Homo sapiens: one gene and its partners. The protein of the gene in region 1 interacts with the protein of each later gene in a biochemical or structural test. Each region holds a gene or a part of one and is shown in the gene's direction. Other genes may lie near its edges.

The links.
Region 2: the proteins of FRMPD3 (region 1) and TANC1 interact in a test that uses a peptide from one of them, tested with the Homo sapiens proteins (one large-scale study listed by IntAct).
Region 3: the proteins of FRMPD3 (region 1) and MYOZ2 interact in a test that uses a peptide from one of them, tested with the Homo sapiens proteins (one large-scale study listed by IntAct).
Region 4: the proteins of FRMPD3 (region 1) and ACVR2A interact in a test that uses a peptide from one of them, tested with the Homo sapiens proteins (one large-scale study listed by IntAct).
Region 5: the proteins of FRMPD3 (region 1) and KCNJ9 interact in a test that uses a peptide from one of them, tested with the Homo sapiens proteins (one large-scale study listed by IntAct).
Region 6: the proteins of FRMPD3 (region 1) and ARHGAP6 interact in a test that uses a peptide from one of them, tested with the Homo sapiens proteins (one large-scale study listed by IntAct).
Region 7: the proteins of FRMPD3 (region 1) and ABCC6 interact in a test that uses a peptide from one of them, tested with the Homo sapiens proteins (one large-scale study listed by IntAct).

What each region holds. Positions count from the first base shown.
Region 1 is NC_000023.11:107,557,652-107,561,151, forward strand, and holds part of FRMPD3 (FERM and PDZ domain-containing protein 3), read left to right. Parts: intron 1-2,605; coding exon 2,606-2,742; intron 2,743-3,075; coding exon 3,076-3,202; intron 3,203-3,500.
Region 2 is NC_000002.12:158,975,140-158,978,639, forward strand, and holds part of TANC1 (protein TANC1), read left to right. Parts: intron 1-3,500. UniProt on the Homo sapiens protein: May be a scaffold component in the postsynaptic density.
Region 3 is NC_000004.12:119,134,453-119,138,631, forward strand, and holds the start of MYOZ2 (myozenin-2), read left to right. Parts: upstream 1-1,379; 5' UTR 1,380-1,530; intron 1,531-2,059; 5' UTR 2,060-2,073; coding exon 2,074-2,149; intron 2,150-4,179.
Region 4 is NC_000002.12:147,914,529-147,918,028, forward strand, and holds part of ACVR2A (activin receptor type-2A isoform 1 precursor), read left to right. Parts: intron 1-662; coding exon 663-806; intron 807-2,754; coding exon 2,755-2,898; intron 2,899-3,500. UniProt on the Homo sapiens protein: On ligand binding, forms a receptor complex consisting of two type II and two type I transmembrane serine/threonine kinases.
Region 5 is NC_000001.11:160,084,538-160,087,800, forward strand, and holds part of KCNJ9 (G protein-activated inward rectifier potassium channel 3), read left to right. Parts: coding exon 1-343; intron 344-2,948; coding exon 2,949-3,263. UniProt on the Homo sapiens protein: Inward rectifier potassium channels are characterized by a greater tendency to allow potassium to flow into the cell rather than out of it.
Region 6 is NC_000023.11:11,659,421-11,662,920, reverse strand, and holds part of ARHGAP6 (rho GTPase-activating protein 6), read left to right. Parts: intron 1-3,500.
Region 7 is NC_000016.10:16,160,995-16,164,494, reverse strand, and holds part of ABCC6 (ATP-binding cassette sub-family C member 6), read left to right. Parts: intron 1-1,302; coding exon 1,303-1,502; intron 1,503-2,930; coding exon 2,931-3,057; exon of another isoform or gene 3,058-3,223; intron 3,224-3,500.

The sequences.
Region 1 (3,500 bases):
CCATCAAAGTTTCGTGTGTGTGTGTGTGTGTGTGTGTGTGTGTTTTTTTTTGCATATGGATATCCAATTGTTATAGCACCTTTTGTTGAGAAGAGTATCCTTCCTCCACTGAATTGCCTTTGTACTTTTGTTAAAAATCTGTTGTCTATATATATATATATATATATATATATATATATATATATATATAGATCTATTCCTGTACTCTCTATTCTGATCTGTTGGTCTACTTGTCTGTCGTTATGTCAACATCACACTCTTGATTACTGGAGCTTTATAATAATTCTTGAAATCAGGAAGTATTTGTTCTCCAACTTTGTTCTTTTTCAAAGTTGGTTTGGCTATTATAGGTCCTTTGCATTTTCATGTGAATTTTAGAATCACCATGATAATTTCTACCAAAACCTGCTGTGATTTGGATTAGGATTGTGTTGAAACTATAGATCAATTTGGGGACAATTGACATCCTAACAATATTGAGCCTTCCAATCCCTGAACACAGTATTTCTACATTTAATTATACCTTCTATAATTTTCCTCAGCAGTATTTTGTAGTTTTCAGTATATAGGTCTTTCATATGTTTTGTCAGATTTGTCCCTAATTATTTCATATTTTTTGATGCTATTGTAAATGATTTTGATTTTAATTCCAATTTTCAATTATTTCTTGCTAGCATATACAAATAGAGTTGGGGTTGGGCATGTTGGCTCACGTCTGTAATTGCAGCACTTTGGGAGACTGAAGCAGGAAGATCACTTGAGCTCAGGAGTTCAAGACCAGCCTGGGCAACATAGTGAGACCCCCATCTCTATACAAAAAGATTTATTTTTAAAAGAATAGAAATACAATTGATTTTTGTGTATTGATCTTATATCCTGAAACCTTGGTAAACTCACTACATTTGGCCCTTCATATCTACAGGTTCCATATTTGTGGATTTTGAAAATATTCAAAAACAATAAAAAATAACAGTGCAATAATAAAAAATACAAAATTTAAAAATATAATATAATAACTATTTGCATAGCATTTTTATTTTAGTTTAGTTTGAGACAGAGTCTCGCTCTGTCACCCAGGCTAGAGTGCAGTGCCATGATCTCGGCTCACTGCAACCTCCACCTCCCAGGTTCAAACAATTCTCCTGCCTCAGCTTCCCAAGTAGCTGGGACTATAGACATGCACCACCACGCCCAGCTAATTTTTGTATTTCTTAATAGAGACAGGGTTTCACCATGTTGGCCAGGCTGGTCTCAAACTCCTGACCTCAAGTGATTCACCTGCCTCAACCTCCCAAAGTGCTGTGACTTTAGGCATGAGCCACAGCATCTGGCCTACATAGCACTATAGCAATTTTTTTTTTTTTTTGAGATGGAGTTTCGCTCTCGGCTCATTGGAACCTCCACCTCCTGAGTTCAAGTGATTCTCCTGCCTCAGCCTCTCAAGTAGCTGGGATTACAGGCGCCCGCCACCATGCCCAGCTAATTTTTGTATTTTTAGTAGAGACGGGGTTTCACCATGTTGTCCAGGCTGGTCTTGAACTCCTGATCTCAGGTAATCCACCAGTCTCCGCCTCCCAAAGTGCTGTGATTACAGGCATGAGCCATTGCACCTGGCCTTATATAGCATTTTAATTGTATTAGGCATTATAAGTAATCTAGAGGTGATAGAGGTATACAGGAGGATTTGCATAGGTTACATGCAAATACCACAGCATTTTATATAAAGGACTTAAGCATCCACAAATTTCAGTATCCATGGGGGTCCTGGAAGAAATCCTCCATGGATACCAAGGGAAAACTGTAGTTGTAGTAGTTTTTTGTAATAGAATCCACTGAATTTTCTACATAGATGATCATTGATGATGTATTCCTTTTCCACTCTCTCCTATATTATAGTGATATCACTGTGGCTTCCTAGTCCCTTAGTCCATACTGGTTCCACTTTAACAAAATGGGAAACTGGTCTAACCAAGGCTGACTCATTGATAGCTGGGGCTGTGACCCTCAGGGTTTGGGGGTTGTCATACCCTTGGCCAGTAGTTCCTGGAGACCTCCTCTAGGATAGCATAGGGAAGATTGACTCATCAACATTTTTGTCCTTCAGACACCAAGAAGAAGAATGCCTCCCCCATCCCTGCAATTCAGCTCTCACCCTGGGCTTCTGGGCCAGGGCCCTGTGGAGAGTCCCTCCCAGTATCTTTCTCCCCTTGTTTCCATCTGAGCTAGTAAAGGAGCCTTGTATGGCTTGGGGGTGAGTATAACCCCCATGAAAAAAAGTAGGAAAGTCTCTTATAAAAGGAGGAAAGAAAGGGAGTGGTGCCATGTCTCACTTTTGCAGTGAACTGGACTGTCTGCTTGTACCTTGCCATTGTGTGCCCCTGTCACTGAGAAGGCTATCTAGTATCTGCTGAATAAAGTGAACAGTGTCTATGAGACCTGAGCCTCCTCTGTTGTCTCTTCTCCAAGGGGAGCTCCTTCCTCTGTCCCTTGATCTAGCATGCCTTACTGATACTATGAGTATTGTCTGGGATGTAAGGGAGTAGATCAGGGGGTGGGGAAGGAATGTCTCCTTCAGCTGATAGGTTTGGACTGCCCTCTCTCACAGAGTCGGAATGATGTTATTCGAGAACGCTTTGGAATGGATCCCAAGCCAGAGATGCTTTTGGGCCTTGCTGCGCTCCACATCTATATCACTGTCTCAGCCACTCGACCTAGTCAGAAGATCTCGCTCAAGAATGTGGAGTGAGTTGTGCTGCGGCCCGTTGGGATGGGGGGCGAATAGTTGCGTAGGGAAAAGGTACACTGGTTGAGCTATGCTATGCTTTTCAGAAATGTAGGACATGGGATGGGAGTGAGAATTGGAGTCCCTCATATCTAGACTATGAAGCCCTAGAGCTACAGCTTCTACTAGGGAGCTGTGGCTAATGTTATTTTCCTATCCCTGTCCCTTTTTCTTTCTCCCAGTCTCTATTCCTCCATCTCTACCTCTCAGATTCAGTCAATTTCTGTCTTACCATCTTCTCTCTGTCCCACTTTGCCTCTCTCACTAATCTCTTACTTTTCTTCTGCTTTTAGGAAGGAGTGGGGCCTGGAACCCTTTCTTCCCCCCTCCCTCCTGCAGGTCATCAAAGAGAAGAACCTCCGGAAATCTCTCTCTCAGCAACTGAAGGCTCACCAAACACATCCTTCCTGCGGCACCAAGGTATCCAGAGTAGACCACTGGGCATGGTGCTCCAGGCACTACTGGCCACAGGGAGATCCTGGGTGGTTTCCCAGCAGAGTCTGGTCCTCTAGGGATCCTCACCACTGCTTTTGACTCAGGTGCACATACGGCTTGGCCAGGTGTGGGGCAGTTGTGGAGAGGAGTCTTCCCCAAGCCTGAGCATCCCAAAGAGACAGCTGAGTGACACATCACTGAGAGAGCTCAGGGTCCTCAAAGCAAAGGGGCCAAGATGCAGGAGATAATTCTCAGGTCCTTTTCACCAATTAGTCAGTGCCGA
Region 2 (3,500 bases), on another chromosome or scaffold:
AAAATTTATATTTTTATTGTATTTATTGTATTTTATTGTGTTTATTGTATTGTTATCTTTTTTCCAGTGGTCAGTTACTAGAATATTTTTTGAATATTTTCTAACCTAGGTTTGTTGAATCTGTGGCCATGGAACCTGAGATATGGAGGGTTGGGTGTGGAGGGGGGTGACTGTGCTTACTACTATAATCCTGCTTTTGATTAGTTTTCCACTGGCCATGTACTTAAGGGTAAGGTGGATGCGTCCCCTGCCCCAGGGAGTGAATTTTGATTAAGCCATCAATTTTAGTAATGCCATACCTTTTGCCAGTGACTCATTAATGAATATGTATGTGACGCCTGTTAGGTCCTGGCATATTTGAAGCATAAGGTTGTCAGCACAAGAGAACAAGTAGCACCGAGTGCAGACTAAAGGTGGCCTAAGACCACAATTACTTTTTTTTTTTTTGTCGGTGTCAGGGGTGTAGGAGGCGGGCGGGTAGAGACAGGGTCTCACCATGTTGCCCAGGCTCGTCTCGAACTCCTGGCCTCAAGCAATCCTTCCACCTCAGTTTCCCAAAGTGCTGGATTACAGAGTGAACCACCATCCCCAGCCCACAATGACTTATTTTAGCTGCTGATTAGCCAGCCCTAGAACCACTGTGACTCAGAACTTCTGTGAGAAAAAACATTTTCGTTATTGTTTCTTTCTTATCTTTTTTTTTTTTTTTTTTAAGCTAGGGTCTCACTCTATCACCCAGGCTGGACTGCAGTGGCATGATCATGGCTCACTGTAGCCTCTGCCTCCTGGGCTCAAGTGATCCTCCCACCTCAGCCTCCCAAATAGCTGGGACTACAGGTGTGCACCACCACACCTGGCTAATTTTTGTATTTTTTGTAGAGATGGGGTTTCCCCATGTTGCCCAGGCTGGTCCCGAACTCCTGGGCTCAAGGGATCCTCCCACCTTGGCCTCCCAAAGTGCTGGGATTACAGGTGTGAGCCACTGTGCCCAGCCTCATTATTGTTTAAGATCAGTGGTCCCCAGAGTGGAGTGTGCTAGATCATCCAATATGGGAGGGAAGAAAATATTCAAGAATGTTAGAAAAAATTAAGCTTTTAAAATATTTAATGTATGAGTTGACACTGGTTGGTATATCTGGTAGTCTTTTATCAACTTACATTATATGAGGTTGCCTGAGGGAAGACTGGGCCTTTTACAACCTGGTGGAATTGACAGTGGTACCCTCATTCTTATTCTTGCCTTTGGTGAACTCTATCCATCTAAATACATTTATGGCTAGATTATCTGGTTTTAACTAAACTGACCCCCAGAAAATGGGCGAGTGGTTTAAAAAGATTCTTGCAAAGAAAGTGTAATGATAATGATATAAGTATAAAGGAACAAGAAAATGTTCTTATGAGTTTAGAACATGACTTTTAAAACAAATTTGACAAGAAGGTGGCTCAAAAATTATGTATGGGCTGAGCGCGGTGACTCATGCCTGTAATCCCAGCACTTTGGGAGGCCAAGGCGGGCAGATCACCTGAGGTCAGGAGTTTAAGACCAGCCTGGCCAACATGGTGAAACCCCGTCTCTACTAAAAATACAAAAATTAGCCAGGTGTGGTAGTGTACACCTGTAATCTCAGCTACTCGAGAGGCTGAGGCAGGAGAATCACTTGAACCTGGGAGGTGGAGGTTGCCGTGAGCCAAGATTGTGCCACTGAACTCTAGCCTCGGCGGCAGAATGAGACTCCGTCTTGAAAAACAACAACAACAACAACAAAATTATGTTTGGATTTGTATTATTAATAAAAATGAACTTAAAAATACTGTTTGACTCCCATCCTTTAAAAGTTTTAAATGTTGTATAATGTATATACTACATTCATGTGTGTGTATACATACCATTCATAACTAGTTTTAATTACACATAAATTAATACAATTTATAATATGTTAGTATATATGTTATAAATTTTTTCCCCTGAAATTCCTGAGCTTCAATACGTTTTTAAAATTTTTTACTTTTTATTTTTTTAGAGGGAGTCTTGCTCTGTTGCCCAAGCTGGAGTACAGTGGTGTGATGATAGTTCACTGCAGCCTCCAACTCCTGGGCTCAAGTGATCCTGTCCCCTCAGACTCCCAAGTATCTGGGACTACAGGTGTGCACCATCACACCTGGCTTAATTAAAAAAAAATTTTTTTTTTGAGATGGAAACTTTCTCTGTTGCCCAGGTTGGAGTGCAGTGGTGCTGTCTCAGCTCACCATAGCCTCTGCCTCCTGGGTTCGAGTGATTGTCCTGCCTCAGCCTCCTGAATAGCTGGGATTACAGGTGTGCACCACCACACCTGGCTAATTTTTGTATTTTTCATAGACATGGGGTTTCACCATGTTGGCCAGGCTGGTCTCAAACTCCTGAGCTCAAGTGATCTGCCCGCCTCGGCCTCCCAAAGTGCTGGGATTACAGGCATGAGCCACCGTGCCTGGCTAATTTTTTTTTTTTTTTTTAACTGATAGTCCTGCGTGATCAAAAAAGCTTTGATACCACAATTTAAGTCACTTAGAGTTAGGTATTTTTGTTACTTGCAGCTGAAAGCATCATACCTGATATAAGGACAGATAAGAGTAGTAGCTGTCCCTGTTTTATTCTTAGCTTTCAAGAATCTCTGTGATCTGGACCCTAACTTGTTTGCAGGCCCAGCTGTCCTCTCCTTGTCTCTGCTAATACCACTGAACTCCTGCCCGTCCCTGATACTTTGTTTCAATTTTGCCTCTTCCCTCACCCTACCACCACCACTGAAATTTTGACTTTCAAGGGCTAGCTTAAATAAATATTGCTTTCTTATGAACATTTTTTCTGATTTACTCCCGCTTCCACATTTCAGTTTTTCTTTCCTTTTAGTCTCCCTAGTACATTGTACATTCATTATAATGTCTTTCTCTGTTTGCTTTTTATTATTAAGTTGTTCGCCTATTGGCTTTGCAGATGGGTTGTAGGCTTTTTGATGGTAGGGGGTCCTGTCTTACCTTTCTCATTTAAAAAGAAAACAATCTGTTTCTCCTTTGGGAGAAAGGGAGACAGAGAATCCACAGTTGTTAAACATCACTCTGGACTTGTTACTCTGGGGTGGGTCTCGCCTCCAGCCTTCTGGCAGCCTTAGGAAGGCAGGGAGCTCCATGTACATGAAAGGAGATTGAGGGCAGGGAGCTCACAGAACCAAGACAGCAGGACCCAGGATTCAGACCTGGAAAATTTTTATTTCCTGGCTGGTTTGTGTGCCCTCATGCATGTTATTTACAGTGCCATGTTCTTTCACATGGGAACACTGACACAGGTGAAATGGGAGGTTCCATAGGATGATAGTGCAAAAACATTAAAGACAATCCTAGCAGATGCAGTGAGTTCAAGGGAGAGTCCTTGTGGAGTAACACGAAAGGCCTGGTGGATGAGATGTATGAAGATCTAAATGCCTGCAGATAGTGAGCTGTCTGCAACTACCACAAAGCAAAATCATGGG
Region 3 (4,179 bases), on another chromosome or scaffold:
CGGCTATATGGCTAAGTTCTGCCCAATGGGATGTAAACAGAAGTATGAACAAAATATCAGACATGTTCTGAAAAGAAGACAGTGTTCCCTTCTCATTTTTTTTTCTTTTTCCTGCTGGTTGAAATATATGCATGCTGACTGGAGCTGGGGCAGCCAATTAGGCCCAAGGGGTCTGCATTTTAGGGATAGTGGAGCAAAAAGTTAGAGGGTAACTGAGCCCTTGATAATTATGTCAGTCATGCAAACCCTCAATTACTTACTTCTAGACTAAGCTTACCTGTGAGAGAAACATCTTCCATCTTTTTACAGTTCTGTTTTGGGGGGGTTTCTGTCACTCCCATTTGACTTTTATCTTAACTAATAGAAAAATATAAAGAAAATGAAGCAGAGTAAGGGACTAGAGAGTGGCACAGTGTGATATTTTAGACAAGGTGATAAGGGAAGGATTTTATGAGGGATTGTTATCTGAGCAGAGTCCTGAATGCATGACTGTGCCATGTGAGTAGAGGGAAAGTATGGAAGGGGGAAATAGTAAAAGGAATACAGTATCTATTTTCATTTTGGAAACCAAAATTAACATAATGATTATCTGTTGAGGACACCATTTCAACCAGGGAAAGGGGGAAATAGTAAAAGGAAAGGGGGAAACAGTAAAAGGAAAAGCCCAGAGATGAGAGCACGTTTTTGTGTCCAGGGACCATCAAGGAGGCCAAACCTTTTGACAGGCAAACCTTTCAAATCTTGTCAGGCCTGCAAATGAAAATCCTTGACCCTAGACATTGTAAAGACTGGTCAACTTTGCAGGGACTGGTCTCTGTAGGCCCTTCAAAAAGCATGACCCAGTTATGAGTCTCAGCTTTTACCCAGCTTCATGGCTTATCCTCTAATGGTTCATTTCAAAATGCTTCCTGAGTTCACTATTCAAATACTACATACTTTTCTCAACCTAGCATGAGTTCTCACTACAGCTTAAGAACTGGCTCTATTGATCCACCCCACATTACTTCCTTTCTTCTTGAGTCTACATAGATATTACTGCCTATATTGTTCATTTTAATTATGAAAAATCTATCATTCTGTTCTGATTCATGCATGTGTCTCTTGCCACCTCAATTAACATGTAACATAAGAGCTAGATGTTTAAAAGTGTTTAAAATCCCTTTTGGCTACTATCTGTTCAACAGAAAGTGCTCACTAAAAACTTTCTGCATGTCCAATGAACGTTTCATTTAACCATCTCACAAACTAGAAACACAATGGAGAGAGCCTAATCTTTCCCTGTTCCTCCCTTTCGCCAGGAAGATATGAGTAGCTAAAGTATTTGGTGCTATATATAGCCAGTTGATGTCAGCTGAATGCCAGTCTCTTCAGAAAAGCTCAGTCCCCAGTTTGAGTCAGAGTAGGGACCATGCTGTCCCAGGTTCAAGGATAAAAACCATCAGGCCCAAGTGCCATCCATAGTCCATCTCCAGAGTCTTCCTCCACAAACTGGGATTCATCCCCGCTGAAAAAGCACAATCTAACAGCAAGGTGAGTATGTTGTTTCCTAAAATGTTTCATTAGTCAGTTGTCCAAGGATATTCAGAGTTGTGACTCATAAATGGGCATTCTCTGCTTTAAAGGGCAGCTGTTGCCAATATTAAAATGCTACCACCAAAGAATTCTGGTTTAGTCTAGTGTCTTCTTCATTCTTACAGTTTGCTGGAATTGATGGAGTGTGATGCTGGTACAAATGAAGGCCAGTGAGGAGACAATGACAGACTAAAATACTGTGGAGAAAAGAGAGGGAGGGGAAAGGAGACCAGCAATTTCATTGTTTCTCACTGCCTGATGATCATTGTATTAATGTCCAGACTGGGTCTCTGTTCACTGTGACATTGCCTGTCAATGAATAACATACTCTGTCACCAGATAAGGAATGCGTATTGAAGTCTTTCAGTAGCAAGCGATAATAACTTTTTAATAAAGAACAAAGATGTTGTCTTTCAAAACAGTGATTATAAGACACTCCAAATGAGTTCTTCACATTGCCTCAATAATGTCCCTTTGTTTTTAACAGGGAACAAAAAAACCATGCTATCACATAATACTATGATGAAGCAGAGAAAACAGCAAGCAACAGCCATCATGAAGGAAGTCCATGGAAATGGTATCAATAAAAATCCTTCGTAGCATTAATATAGCACAGCATGAATGTGGCTCCATCCTGACGTTGTTTAATATTCCATAGTTTACTTCCTTTAGATTCTTGCTGTTCTGTCATAACAAACCTGGAGCTCTAGGGGGTGTAGAAAAGCCTATGGTAACTAATCCTTTTGTAGTCATCCTTTCTCATTTGGAAGCTATTTTCAGAGGAACAACTGCTGTAAAAGGCATGAAGCAATCTGACAGCTGATGTACATTCTGCTTGGCTTGCCTTCCACATTATAAGTTAAGATCACTCTCGATTCTTTTTTTTTTCTGGACAAGTCTCATACAATCTTGTCTTTATTGTCCATCCCACATGGTTTAGCTTGATTTCTTTTACCTTACATTATATAAATCACTCAAAATAAGTTCTATCATCTTTTTTATCAAGCTATTAAGTTGGAATTCATATTTATTGCTTATTATTTAACTCCATTTCTATTGCTTATTTATTTAACCCTTCATATTTGTTAATTGATTTACTAACATATTTTGTGTGCAAAGTCTACTTTTATTTGTAACTTCTGAGAAAATATAAAGTTATTGTAGTCTCAAAGCATATGACTCAAAAAAATTTTAATATATATTACGTGCAAGGTAATATTTCACTCTCTCCTTTTCTTTAAATTCTAGCAACTAACTTGAGAAAGCAATGCTTTATAACTTGCATTTTGATTCTTATAAAGGAAATTCAACTTTGTTTATAAGCAACGTATAGCATCAGTTTTAAATGTTAAGAAAAATATTCAGGTCCTCTTAGGAGCTGATTTGAGCCATTCCAGATATATTAGTGGCATTTTCAGAATGCCTCCTTATTTCCCCTGTATTGACAAGGAATGCAGCCTTTCACCACTACAATATTGAGACCTAGAAGCTTGAGACCCGGGAAGAGTATTGAGCATAATGTTTTCATATTACACCTTCCATAAAGCAAGAGGAACAGAATCAAAGACTTTTAGATGCTCCCCACGCAATGTAATCATAACTAAGAGGTCCGTTGTTGTTTTCTATTTTCTGCAATACAGAACCACTGTACTGGATTCAACTTGGTTCTCATGTTTTACTGTAATGTCAAATTAGCTTGGAATAAAATGAGAATAATTCTGAGTCAGATACCAGAACTGAATTCATACCAATCCAAAGTTCCAAAATTCATGCCTTATTTAAAATTTCATGCATCTTTGTGTTTCCAGATTCAAGTAGTTTACTTGAAATTATTTTTTAGCTTTTCTGATCAATGTGGCAAAAATCAGATGATCACTGGAGTTTGTGACAAAATTGTTTACCTTAAAATAGACCTTTCATGTTATTATTTTCTAATGACATCCTAATCATAAAACAGTCAGTCCATTTAATGTATTCTAGCCTAAATCATGTGTTGGAATCTACTGTTAGCTCTGACATAGATCTATAAGGGTAAGAAGTTTTTTTTCCTTTTTTTTATAAACATAACTATTGTTTTTATAAAAAATATGTGGGAGAAAACACACAATTATATATCAAAGTGGGGGAAACCCTCAAAACCACTATCTCACCACCAGTAAATCCTAGCCACGTAAAGTCAGCTGAAGCCCTCCCTCCCATGTCACTGGATGAGTACCAGCTCCCTTAAGAGGAGTCACATGCTCTGTCTTTGTTGGAATGTCAAGTATTTCAGATAACATGGGGATAATCAGACTCTTTCCAAGCTCATCCCAGATGAAATAACTTCAGTACTTTATGAAACCGCTCAAATATTTTTCTTCTCTTATTTCCTCTGACATTTTATATGGAACTTTACTATTTGTGTATAGCATGATGTTTAGAGATCTGGAGCTAGGGGAGTATAATTTTTTCTCAGGATGCATAATAAAATGGACTTCAGAGAAACTTTTTTGGGAATGATCCTCCAAACTTTCAAACATTTTACAGGAGTAAAAATCTGGATAATTTAAGATAAAACATGCAACTGCTTTGATCTTAATTGTAAGACTAAATAAATCAAATTTTGCC
Region 4 (3,500 bases), on another chromosome or scaffold:
CAGTCAGTCAGTTCCAGAACACAAATGATTTTTTATCTCAGATCAAAGGGATGAATTGTTAATATGTTTAAAATTAGAATGAACCAGTTTGGTTAAAGAAATATTTACTTACATATTTCCTGTATGTGCTTTGTATTTGATATACCTATCTGCAATGTGTTTAAGAATGACTGCCGGTATCTCTGAGATTAATGAAGAAAAAATTTAAACAGTCACTGGAGAAAGTAATAGATCTTCAGGAGAGGTTTTTGCTGATATATAGTCATAATTTGCTGTTTCTGGCACTTTTCAAATCATCCTCCTCGAAGTACACACTGGATGAAACAAATGAAATATTGTTAGGAGTATTTCGTAGTTCACAGAAAATCTTAGTGGGGAATATTACTGAGACTGATCAGAAAGATTTTAGATCTTCTCTCCTGTGGTACATATATAGCAATAATGCTGAACATTATTATGAAACTCTGAATTCAGGTTGCCTGCCTTGTGATCACTATAGATAATTAGTAATCTAATTATGGCAACATTGAAGTTAATGTCATTCATATGTGTTTACTGTTTCTGTCAGTTGACTTTTCAGTATACTCACTTTTTTTCTCATTTTCAGAGTTGGTGTGTGTCATGTTCTGCTTATTTATAGTATTATTATTATTTATCTGTAGGACCCAGGACCACCCCCACCTTCTCCATTACTAGGTTTGAAACCACTGCAGTTATTAGAAGTGAAAGCAAGGGGAAGATTTGGTTGTGTCTGGAAAGCCCAGTTGCTTAACGAATATGTGGCTGTCAAAATATTTCCAATACAGGTATGTTTATTGCAGTTTTGTCATCTTACATACATGTTTTATGGCTAGGTCATCATAACTCAGAAATAGTCTCAAAACAGAAGCCATATGTACCAAGGTGGTTCTTTGTGATACTGGGGAAAGCAGTTAGCTCTTTTAATGCCTGCCTTTGCATCTGAGAAATGGAATTGTTAATATAACAATCATTATGTTTGTCTGGAGTGGTGGAATTAAATGAATGCATAGTAGATCTTTTGCCAGTGAAAATTCTAATAGAAATGTTAAATAAAGATAAAGATTCCAATAAACAAGTCTAATTGAGTGGTTAAATTTTAATATCCCCCTACGTTGTCAGAGAAAGCAAACAAAAAAACAAAAGAGCAGTATACTTTGTTTTAGAATTGGTATTTAGAGGTATATCACCAGACTTGACTTACTTTCATTCTACTTTGAGTGTTTAATTATTTCAGTTTTTGTTTGATGCATTTTCAGAGGCAATCGAGACTTCAAATAATTGGTTTACTGTTGAATTGTTTTTAAGGTTGGCTGGACTTCTCATAAAACTCTGATCTAATGTACCTCTGAGCTATTCTTGTGTTTTGTTTTGTTCCGTTGGTGGTATAGATTTATGATGATTCTGTCTTCCCCATCTCTTGCTTATATACCCTGGCAGCTCATGATACCCTTGGTACTGACGTCTTGGCTGGATTTGGTGTTGCAGGCTCTACCACCATACTTAGAGAGTGGATGTTTCTTTTTCCAAAGTTATCATATAAGCAGTTTCTTTGTCTTAATATACCTAGATTTTAACCTTTTTACCTCCTCTGTTCAATCTTACCTCCTCTGTTCAGTCTATAAACTGTTTACATAGAGTTTATGAACTGTATTACATTTTTTTTTGGTAGCTGTAAACCACAGTTTAGTTTTCAGAGAGAAAGTGTATTCTGTTGTGCCAAGATTCATAAATAAGATAAGGGAAGAAATTATTTCCATGTGTAAGGAAGCATAAAGCTCAGAGAAAGGCATTTGGATGATATTAACAAGCCCGACAACAGCAACAACAGTAGCTAACATTTTATTGTATGCTTTTATTGGGTCAGGTAGGGGTGTTTTACATATATGAGTACTCACTAATATGTGTACGTATATTACCCACATGTACATAAAATGCAACATATAATACAACAATTCTATAAGACAGACACTACAATGCCTTTTCTACTTAATGAGGACACTGAAGGATTATGTAACTTGCCAGAGGTTAGTGGGAGAGCCAGGATTTAAGTTTGGACAGTTTGGATGCAGAGAGTTTCTAAGGGTTTCTAACCATTATGCCATAGTGCCTCTTACTATTATTGTCTTTTAGTAGTGAAAAGAAGCTAATCTTTTATAAGTAGATACTTAGTAGACATGGATTGCTTGCAGGCACAAGTGAATATATGGTGTCTTAAATTATTGCATTGCATATCTTTGCCCCTTGCTTTCTCATAGACCTTGTAGGGTATGCTAAACATTTTTTGAAGGATGTTTGATATTATGTTAGTTTTTGAAAAGAAGAAGTTTTCTATTTAGAGGAAGTCATTCTGCCGGAATTTCATCTTTCAAGGAGATTATTCTGAATAGTACCACAAGTAACTTCACACCATGATGAAATTACAGTGTAATACTTGCAGTAACTTACGTGTTGCCATTGTAAGACACAGAATGCAGCATTTCCGATCACCTTCTGTGTTTGTAAACTAGAAACACAGAAAAGTACGTTTTGAGGGAATGAAAAGGGCAGGCATTTAGTATAAATTTGTTAACCTATTGTCAGAGCTTTTTCTTATTACAAAACAGAACAAAAAATTTTTTAAGACTTTTTTGTTTTGTTTTGTTTTACTTTGGAACTTATTTGAGTAATCTCTTATGCATGGTTTATTAAACCTGTATTCCTTGTGTTCTTACTATTCTTTCTTTTTGACTCTAGGACAAACAGTCATGGCAAAATGAATACGAAGTCTACAGTTTGCCTGGAATGAAGCATGAGAACATATTACAGTTCATTGGTGCAGAAAAACGAGGCACCAGTGTTGATGTGGATCTTTGGCTGATCACAGCATTTCATGAAAAGGTAAAACTACTTAACGTTTTACTTTAGTAAAGTCTGAGTTGGCCTGCCTACCTAATGCTGGCTATAAATCCCTCAGAGTTATTTTTCGAGACATCTTATAGTTGATTAATATTTAACCTGAAAATAAAAATCATTCTTGAATAAAAATGTTTTAAAAGGTAGTTTATTTTAATAAAAGAGCAAAGATGGCAACTTTTTAACCTAAAACTCTACTCATATAAACCACCCTTTTGTTCCTTATTTCTTGTGCTGTAATTACTCTTACAAACATTTATTTTAGTGTAGGTAATGCTTAGTAATTTTCATTTACCATTTACAATTCATTTTGATTACGTGAACCATTTTTTTAAGTTTTAATCAGTCTTGCTTGTGACAAAACCAGAGTCAGGAAATTTATCTGATCTTTGATCTGTCACTAACTTGCAGGGTAATTATCACCAAAATGTAATTGCTAGTTTTCCTCAATTTTTCTACTTTTAGAGTCAGTGTGAAAGTACCATTAATGAAGTAGGAAATTATGTTTTTGGTAATTGGTTTCATCATTGTGAAATGTAAGTGGTTCTTTTACTTCTCTTATCTTGACCTAAAGGACAACAATAATC
Region 5 (3,263 bases), on another chromosome or scaffold:
ACGCTCGTCTTCTCCTCGCACGCCGTGGTGTCGCTGCGCGACGGGCGCCTCTGCCTCATGTTCCGCGTGGGCGACTTGCGCTCCTCACACATAGTGGAGGCCTCCATCCGCGCCAAGCTCATCCGCTCGCGCCAGACGCTGGAGGGCGAGTTCATCCCGCTGCACCAGACCGACCTCAGCGTGGGCTTCGACACGGGAGACGACCGCCTCTTCCTCGTCTCGCCGCTGGTTATCAGCCACGAGATCGACGCCGCCAGCCCCTTCTGGGAGGCGTCGCGCCGTGCCCTCGAGAGGGACGACTTCGAGATCGTCGTTATCCTCGAGGGCATGGTGGAAGCCACGGGTGCGAGCAGGCCTGGGGAGGGGAGCGGGGTTGGCAGAGGGTGGGCGGGACCGAGGAAGGCAGGGGCGAGACTAGGGGCCAGGGGAGCTGGGGAGGATGGATGGAGGGGCTGGTGGAGGATGAGACAGTGAGGTGAGACAGGGGTCGGAGGCGGGAGTGGAACCGAGCAACGCCGCAGAAGGCCAAGAGAAAGCTTGGAGGAATTCTCCGAAATGGCACTGGCGTGGGGCCCTGGGCCCAGAGGAATGTGTCACTTGGAATAGGGACAGTAATAATAGCTAGTGCTCGCCCAGTATTCACCCTGTGTCATGCGCAGTTCCAAAGCACTTTCTACCTCTGAGTCGATTTAATCCTAACAAGAACCCTCTGAAGGTAACTTCTTGTTATTGTGCTCACTTTTTAGAGATGAGATTGCTCCAATGAGAAATTAAGGAAGTTGTCCACTTTCCTAAGCCAATAAGTGGCCATGCCTGGATTGGACACAGGCAATGTGGCTTCAATGTTTAGTGGTCCCGAGTTGGAAGGAGGGGTTAGGTTCAGGGGTTTTCTCACTGCAGTCAGGTTCAGGCCCCTGGAATTTGACGGTGAAGGTTTTCCATTGCCTGAGTTATTTCTAGGCCGGATCTTGAGGGGAGTTTAATACCTAGTCTCACTTGTACCTCGGTTTCCCAATTCATCCATTTCCACTGACAAGGGATATAGATGATGTTACCTTTTCTAGCTCTTTTCCAAAAGGAACTGGCAACTCATCTGTGATGTCAATAAGTCCAACCCAGACCTACACAGTGAAGGCTTTGGGAGCAGGTGAAAAAAGACCAGTGTTACAGGAGTCGCAAAGGAGGTCACTTAGGACTTGAGATCTAGAGGATAGATGAGGATGAGGAAACTGCGGGTGGAGGACCAAAGGCCCACTAGGGGGCGCCGCAGTCCCTCCTCTGACGCCAGAGCTGCTGATGCTCCCTGCCGGCTTCGCTGACAAGCTGGTGCCTTCAGATCCTTTCCCTGGCCCCTTTAGGCTGAGACTCCGCTTCACACCCCAACCCCAGCTCCGCATCACTGTTCCCATTCCTGCTTCACCCCGACTCTTTCCTCTTCCCCCACTCACCCCGTTCCCTTTCCTCTCTCTCCAGCTGTCACTCCTTTTCTGCCAGTATCTCAGGCAGGCCCCTCACCCTCCAGGGAAGTTGCTGCCCGGCCCTCTTTTCTCTTTGTACCCCCAGCCCTGCCCTCTCCTCCTCGAAGCCCTTCTCTCCCCAGTGTCCCTTATGCCTCTTTCTCTTCTCTCCCACTGGATACTTTCTATTCCAACTTCACCGAGGAATACCAATGTCTCAGCGCCAGGCTTTCCGAGTTGACAGCCACTCTCCGGTTAGCTAATGTTCACTCTTCTGTTTCCCCTTGTTCCGAGATGGATATGGGTTGGGGGCAAGACCCTGTGGCAGAAAGGAGAATGACCTGCCCTGAGGGGTGCACCAGCCCAACAGGAAGATAGGACACAAGCCCCGGGCAGGGAGGACCAGGACAGAGGAGATGAGGATAGGAATCTGTCTGTTTTTCTAGAGAGATAAAGCTGGAAAGGATGGTAATATTTTGGGTGAGACAGTCAGGATTCAAAACGCTTTTGAAAAGCAAGAATAATGAGCCAAAACCCAGCAAGATGACATTTAAAATGAATAAATATAAAATTCTACATTTAGGCTTTAAAAAAATCACTTATGTAAGCACAGCATGGAAGAGCACTGGTGAAAAAAGAACTGGGAGTTTTAGTTGGCTACAGTCTTGATGTCGTAGCAATGTGATGCAGCCTCCAAAATGATTATGTAATGTTATCCTGGGCCCTATTAGTGAAAGCATCATGGCCAGAAGAGAGAGATGGTGCGCGCTCTCTTATGCACGGAGCAGGCCACAGTTGGAAAATTTACTATACTCAAAATGCTTAAAGGGCCCTCCTTGGCCATTCTGGCTTGTAATCAAAAAAGTAGAGTTCTGGAAAACCAGGTCAAATGAGGAATCGTGGAGGAAGCCAGGGATGTTAAGTCAAGAGAGAAAACATGAGGGAATCTGAGACTCCTGTTTTCAGATACTCAGAGGACTGTGAAGTGGGAGGGGAATGAAGCCAAGAGTTGGAAATCCCAGGGTACAGGTTTTAGCTCTGTATAAAGAACAACCCAACTATTAGAGCTATCATACAAAGGAGTGGGCCCTTTATGAAGTGGTGAGCTATCAATCCTGGGAGGTAATCAAGTATAAGCTAGATGCCCATTGTTAGAAATGCTCCTTTGGGGAGCCCTGTATGGAGTGAGAAGTTGGACTAGAGGATCCCTAAGGTTAGTTTCAAGGTTAAGCTTTTTTTGGTTGGCATCACCAAATGACAGGAGGGGAAAAAAGAGCTGGACATTAAGAGGAGTTGGGGCAAATGGAGAAGACACGAGGGAGCTGGGTAAGAACAGGAGCTAGGGAGGGGGGGAAATGGACTGGACCAAAGGGAGGTGGGAGCCCTTAGGAAGGAATAGAAGGGAGGGTGCTGGGAGTAGGGTTGTGGAATGAGAAGAGGAGAGGGAAGCCTGGAGCTGAGATTCCCCCTGACCGGTGCCCCTCCTCCCAGGAATGACATGCCAAGCTCGGAGCTCCTACCTGGTAGACGAGGTGCTGTGGGGCCACCGCTTCACGTCAGTGCTGACTCTGGAGGACGGCTTCTACGAAGTGGACTATGCCAGCTTTCACGAGACTTTTGAGGTGCCCACACCTTCGTGCAGTGCTCGAGAGCTGGCAGAGGCTGCCGCCCGCCTTGATGCCCATCTCTACTGGTCCATCCCCAGCCGGCTGGATGAGAAGGTGGAGGAGGAGGGGGCGGGGGAGGGGGCGGGTGGGGAAGCTGGGGCTGACAAGGAGCAGAATGGCTGCCTGCCACCCCCAGAGA
Region 6 (3,500 bases), about 96 Mb from region 1:
ATCAAAAATTGAAATGTTGAATTTCTCTTGGTCTTTAGGAGGGGCTGGATTCTCATTGTATTTCAGAAGCACACATTATCAGATTAATCTGTACAAGTTGAGAGAAAGAGAAATACAAAAGCAAGCCAGCATTTTGGATTAGCTAGCTAACATTCGTGCTTAAAACTAATTGCATCATTAAGAACATTTCTGCTTTTCTTAGCAACCATATACATACTTGGAATATAGTATACAGATGCTGCTCATTACTGTTATGACCAAAAGGCATGTGGCTGTAGATGATTTCACTTGTTGCAAATTATCTTCTTATCCATTAGCATCTCATAATTAATGGACAAGGATCTGAACTGCAGTGATACTGGGTGGCTTCTATTCCATACAGTGGGCAGTCTGCACAAAACTCATCTACCATGATTTTTACCTTTTCATGGTGGTTAAAACTAAGGATGTAGCCATCTAGCAAAAAGCCAGAATTTTCTCATAGAATATGTGTGTATGTGTGTGTGTGTGTGTTGGAAATTCCTTTATGCTTGAGGCAGGCATGGAGTGATTGGATAGAACTCTAGCATGTAGCTCCAACCCTGGTTTTGTTTAATAAAGGCCAAGATATCCTAACATAACCCTTGGATCTCTAATTTAATGGCCTGGATTACCTTTCAAAGGTTTAACGCCCTGGAACCCTCTGAAAAACCAAGAAAATGTATCCTATTGGGCACTGCCTGTCCTTTTCACTTGCAGGCAAGCTGAGTCTTTGGTCCTTAAAGGAGAGTCTTTACTAATGACATCAAAATGTCAGCCAATGAGCATCTTGCAAGGCTGCTTAGAGGCCCTGGAGGGAATATCTGGTTCATATAGATTTGGTTCTTGAACTTTTCTGGTTGCTCTGGCTCAGGGTTTCTCAGCCTTGGCACTATTGACATTTGAAGCTGAATGATTCTTTGCTACAGAGCTGTCCTGGGTATTGCGGGGTATTTAGCAGCACCCCTGGCCTCTTCCCACTAGATGCGAGTAGCACTCCTCCAGACCAGTGTGACAACAAACAATGTCTCTAGACACTGCTGAATATCCTCTGGGGATCAAAATCGCCCTAACTGAGAACTGCTGCGTTAGTGAGGTTGCCCATAGTACCCCATGCTGGCCATCAAGAGAGTGCCCACAGAAGTGTTTACAGCTGGCCTAAACTTTGTTGGCGCCTTCGTTTGATTCCAAAACCACGAGGATCCCTCTGGAGTCATGTACCCCTTACAGTCTGTTCAAATTTTCTATTTCTCTTCCATTGAATCCATATGAAATCCTAAGAATTCACCTTCAGGTTTAGCCATTGATGGATCTCATCCATTTCCCACTTTGTTCTTTCAGAATCTTGTCTGCTTTTAACGTAAATTGTCCATACAACAGCCCCTGCTCCCAAGACTCTCACAAATGCCTGCAGCTTTGTTACTTGTGCTCGTTCAAAGCTTACAAATGACCATTTTATGGCCTAAACCTGGGAAGTGTTAGGCAAAGTCAGCTACGATCTTGTTAGCATTTCCTCACTACGTGTTTCAGGATTGCTTTAACAAAATCTGATTCCTGGACATGCTGGGTAGATCATCTATTGAGTAGAAACATGGAGGAGACAAAGGGTAAATGGTACGTGGTAACACAGTTGGAACGTGTTTCTCAACTTGTGTTCTTAGCAGCCAAGCTCTGCCCCTGACTCTGATCACAGGCAAAGGAATAAAGTCTCATTTCAATCCTGAGCTTCTCCTAATTCTTGTGGATCAGAGCTGGGATTATGTCCATAGCTAACCTGGAGTTTGCCAACTTTTGCAACCCATAATTAAAATGATTTCTATATATCACTGGCGTCTATACTTTTCTTCATTCATGGCACAAGCATTTCTTGAGCATACGCATTTCTGTAGGTACTAGGAATGCAGAGAGGCTAAAGAGCTCATAGTCTAATGAGGGGACAGGTGAGTTAACTGATAGGGGGAATACAGAAGATCAGCAGAATGAGGGAACAGAGAGGGGCGGGTGATGATTCACTGTGCTTTGGGGGGCCTTGAAAGGCTTCACTGTCCAGAGAACATTTAAACTTGATCTTCAAAGATGACTGCCATTTCTAAGGAGAAGAAGGAAAGTGATGCCTTCATGAGGCAGAAAAGAGTGGACAGGCAAAGGCGCAGAGGTGTTGGTGATTCTACAGCTCCCAAAAAAGAAGACTTAGAGGGCCCTAAGCGCAATAATTTGTTTGGAGGAGCAGGTTAGGGCACCTGCAGTTTGATACACGTACAACCACATGGCTTTTCATGTAATAAAAGCCTGACCGAATAAAGTCAGAAATCAGACCTGTTGGGTTTTTTTTTTTTTTTTTTTTTTTTTTTTTTTTTTTTTTTTTTTTTTTTGAGAGAGAGAGAGTCTCACCCTGTTGCCCAGGCTAGAGTGCGGTGGCACGATCTCAGCTCAATGCAACCTCCCATGTTCAAGCGATTCTCCTGCCTCAGCCTCCCCAGTAGCTGCGACTACAGGCATGCACCAGTAGAGACTGGGTTTCACTATGTTGGCCAGGCTGGTCTTGAACTCCTGGCCTCAAGCCATCTGCCTGCCTCACCCTCCCAAAGTGCTAGGATTACAGGCATGAGCCACCACACCCAGCCTCTACTGGGGGGATAATTATGGGTATGAACAAAAATGAGAGACTGGTCAAAGCACATTACTCTCCAAGGAGCCCCTGGGCATCACAACTGCAGAGAGTGAAGGCATATTGAGTGTTGCCCAAGTGAAGTTTGGGGTGCCTGGAGAAGAGGATGTATCTTGCTGTGTGCAGGATAATAGTGTTCAACAGGTAGGATAGTGGTAATTACGAAGCGTCTCACTGTGCTCATCTCAGGAGTTTGGACTTGTGTAGAGCAGTGATTCTTAACCTGGAGGTGACTTTGTCCCCAGGGGACATTTGGCAGTGTCTGAAGACACAACTGGAAGTGGTGGTGTATTAATTTCCTATCACTGCTGTAATGACCACAAACTTAGTGGCTTCAAGCAACACAAATTTATTGTCTTACAGTTCTGGACCTCAGAAATCCCAACAGGTTTCACTGGGCTAACTTCAAGGTGTTGGCCTGACTGTGTTCCTTCTGAAGGCTCTAGGATCTGTTGTGGTTCCTTTTCCAGTGGCCCCCTTCCTTCATTTTCAAAGCCAGCCAAGTTGCATCTCATCCACTCTTCTTGTGTGGTCATTTCTCTCTCTCGCTCTTTTCGGGACTCTTGTGATTACATTGGGCTCACCTGGATAATCCAGGATAATCTCATTATTTTAATGTCAGCTGATTAGTGACTTTTAATTCCACCTGAAACCTTAAGTTCCCTTTGCTATGAGGTATTCACATGTTTTAGGGATTGGGGCGTGGGCATTTTTGGTGGTATATTATTCTGTCTACCACAGGGGAGTTCCTACCGGCATCTAGTGGGAGGCCAGGGATGCTTCTTTTAAATACCCTGCAGTGCACAGCCCCACA
Region 7 (3,500 bases), on another chromosome or scaffold:
ACTCGTCACAGTAACTGAATGGATAGTAGATTCTGATACACTAGGCTGCATCATGTGACCACCTCTCTGATCAGGTCCCATGATTGACAGCACCCCAACCCAGCCCTTTCCCACAGGAAACCAGAAGTAGAAAACATGGTAGTCAGATAAAAACCATGGCTAGGGCTAGGCATGGTGGCTCACACATCTAATCACAGCACTTTGGGAGGCTGAGGTGGGCAGATCACTTGAGGTCAGGAGTTCGAGACCAGCCTGGTCAACATGGTGAAACTCCGTCTACTAAAAATACAAAAATTTAGCCAGTGTGGTGGCGCATGCTTGTAATCCCAGCTTCTTGGGAGGATGAGGCGGGAGGATTGCTTGAGCCCGGGAGGCAGAGGTTGCAGCGAGCTGAGATTGCACCACTGCACTCCAGCCTGGGTGACAGAGAGAGACTCCATCTCAAAAAACAAACAACAAAACCCATGGCTACCACTGTCCCCGACAATTGTCCTAGGTCTTCTCTAAGTTCACTTGACTCCGAGGATGGGCTGTTTCTGTCTCAAGCTTTAGAGTCAAGCAAAGATGGGTTTAAATCCAGGCTCTATCACTTACTGTGGCACTCAGGACAGCTGCTGAATCCCCCGAGCCTTGGATGTTCTCACCACTAACTGATGAATGACGCGAATGCTCACTCTGCAATGAATGAGACACTGTGTGAAAAGCCTGGCACATACAGTTGGGTGTTCAGCAAATTCAGTTCCTCCCTGCCTGCCTGTCTGCCAGCTGCACCCAACCTGCAGCTGCAAACCAAATAACGAATATTTTCTGCACATCACCTGGCATGTAACCCTTGGGTTACATGAGTGAAACTGACTTGGCCAACTGCCTTCATTGCCCCTTACAGTTTTGTTCTCCCACTGACCAGCCGTAAATGAAGTAGTCGGCCTCAGTGCTGGGAAGTGAGACACTTAAACTAAATTGGTGGTTTCTCAACCCTGGCTGTCCCTTAGAATCATCTGGAAGGCTATTTAAACAGCACCAAAGTCAAGGTGACATTTCCAGAGATTCCGATTCAGTCATTCTGGGGTGGGGCATTAGAGGTTTTTGAAGCTCCCCAGGTGATTTTCAAAAAAACCATAGAACTCTGATTCTGCAAGGAAATGAGAACCCAGAGAGGGCAAGCAACTAGCCCAAGGTCACACAGTAAGCTGTTAACAGATCCTGGTCTGGAATCCTGTACTTGGGGCTCTCTGTGCTTCTGGAAACTACCTCTCTATGTCTGTGGCTTCTCCTCTTCCCTCTCCCATCCATCCTTCTCAGAGCCTGTATGTGGTTAGCTCATGCCAGCTGAGACGCTTGGAGTCAGCCAGCTACTCGTCTGTCTGCTCCCACATGGCTGAGACGTTCCAGGGCAGCACAGTGGTCCGGGCATTCCGAACCCAGGCCCCCTTTGTGGCTCAGAACAATGCTCGCGTAGATGAAAGCCAGAGGATCAGTTTCCCGCGACTGGTGGCTGACAGGTAGGAAGAGCCAGGGCAGAGAAGACCTTGCAATTCATCCATATCCTTAGAGGGTGAGACCTGAGGTCATATTGTATGGTAGAGAGGTCACCCAGAGAGTCAGGGACATAGTTGAGGCTAGATCCCACAGGCAGTCTATCAGTTCTCACCGTGGGCAGATGGAACATGACCGAGAGATTCTCAACAGCAGGTGGGCGGGGGGTACAGGAAGAAGCTTCTGTTGCCAGGCAACTGGATCAACCTCTTTTGCCTTGGTGATAAAGCAGCCATATAAGCATCCTCAGCCATCTTTAGGTACTAAGCAAGAACAAGAACACAAGCTTTAAGCACAAATAGACACAGGTTCAAATCCCAGCTCTGCCACTTACCAGCTGGTTGATTTCAGGCAAGTTACATAACCTCTCTGAGCCTCATTTGTCAAACTGGGATCGTGCTCATGGAGTGGATATGAGGATTAAATACAGACACTCATAGGTAAGACCTGTAACATGCTTACTGCATGCCTGGCACTGTTCTGAGCAATCTATGTAGATTAATTTATTTAATTCTGCTAACAGCTTCACCAGGAAGAAACTGTTCTATAGATGATAAATCCTAGGCACAGTGAGGTTTGGAAACTTGTCCAGGGTCTCACAGCTAATACTGGCAGAGCCAGGATTTGAATCCAAGCAGTCTGGTACCAGAGTGTGGAGAGGGTCAAGTACACACTAGGTGCTCAATACATGTGAAGTCCTTTTTCCTTTCATCTCAGGTCCCCAGCCAGCTGGGGCTGTGTATTAGTCCATCTTCACACTGCTAAAAAGAACTACCTGAGACTGAGTAATTTATAAAGAAAGGAAGGTTTAATTGACTCAGTTCCACGTGGCTGGGGAGGCCTCAGGAAACTTACAATCATGGTGGAAAGGGAAGCAAGGCACGTCTTACATGGCAGCAGGAGAGGGAGAGCATGAGGTGGGAACTGCCGCATCCTTTTACGCCATATGATCTTGTGAGAACTCACTATCTCGAGAACAATATGGGGAAAACTGCCCCCATGATCCAGTCACCTCCCACCAGATCCCTCCCTCCACATGTGGGGATTACAATTTGAGATGAGATTTGGGTGGGGACACAGAGCCAAACCATGGAGGCCATGGTTCAGGCCAGGGGAATGGCAGGTGGACATGGCTTGGCAAATTCCAGGGACAGAAAAGCAGCCACACAGGGATGCTCTTCAGAACACCGAGTGTACCCCAGACCCTAAAGTGGGCTTAGTTGAGACAGGACGGTGTCATCTTCCTCTACTCCCTGAGCCTGGGTTGCATGTGGAGGCCATTGCTGGGACCCCTGTGTGTACAAAGCTGGTGTGATGACCAGTCCTTGTGCCCAGAGAAGCATCTCCCTGCAGATGAGAGTAACCACTCACCCTGCTGTCGCTTCCCTTTGCAGGTGGCTTGCGGCCAATGTGGAGCTCCTGGGGAATGGCCTGGTGTTTGCAGCTGCCACGTGTGCTGTGCTGAGCAAAGCCCACCTCAGTGCTGGCCTCGTGGGCTTCTCTGTCTCTGCTGCCCTCCAGGTACTCCCCACATCCCCAAACTGGGCTTGAGGGACAGACAGAGGCAGAGACTGTCGGACCCCTGCTAGTGGGACCTTTGAAGACCCTGTGTCCAAACCAACATGGTGTGTGGAGTCCCTCCACCAAGGAGGGACACGCAGCTCTACAAGAGCCAGACTCAGCTAAGGTGAACTTGCAACCTTGGGCAAGAGTCTTTCCTTGTGGAGTGTCAGTGTGCTCCTTGGAAAGACAGGCCAGAAATCCCACTACTTCTGATGTTATAAAGACTAGTTGAGACAAAGCATATCCTGTGGAGGACATTTCTAGTGCATTGTTAACTTTTGTTTTGTTTTGAAGACAGAGTCTCTCTCTTTTACTCAGGCTGGAGTGCAGTGGTGCAATCTCGGCTCACTGAGAACTCTGCCTCCTGGGTTCAAGCGATTCTTATGCCTCAGCCTCCCAAG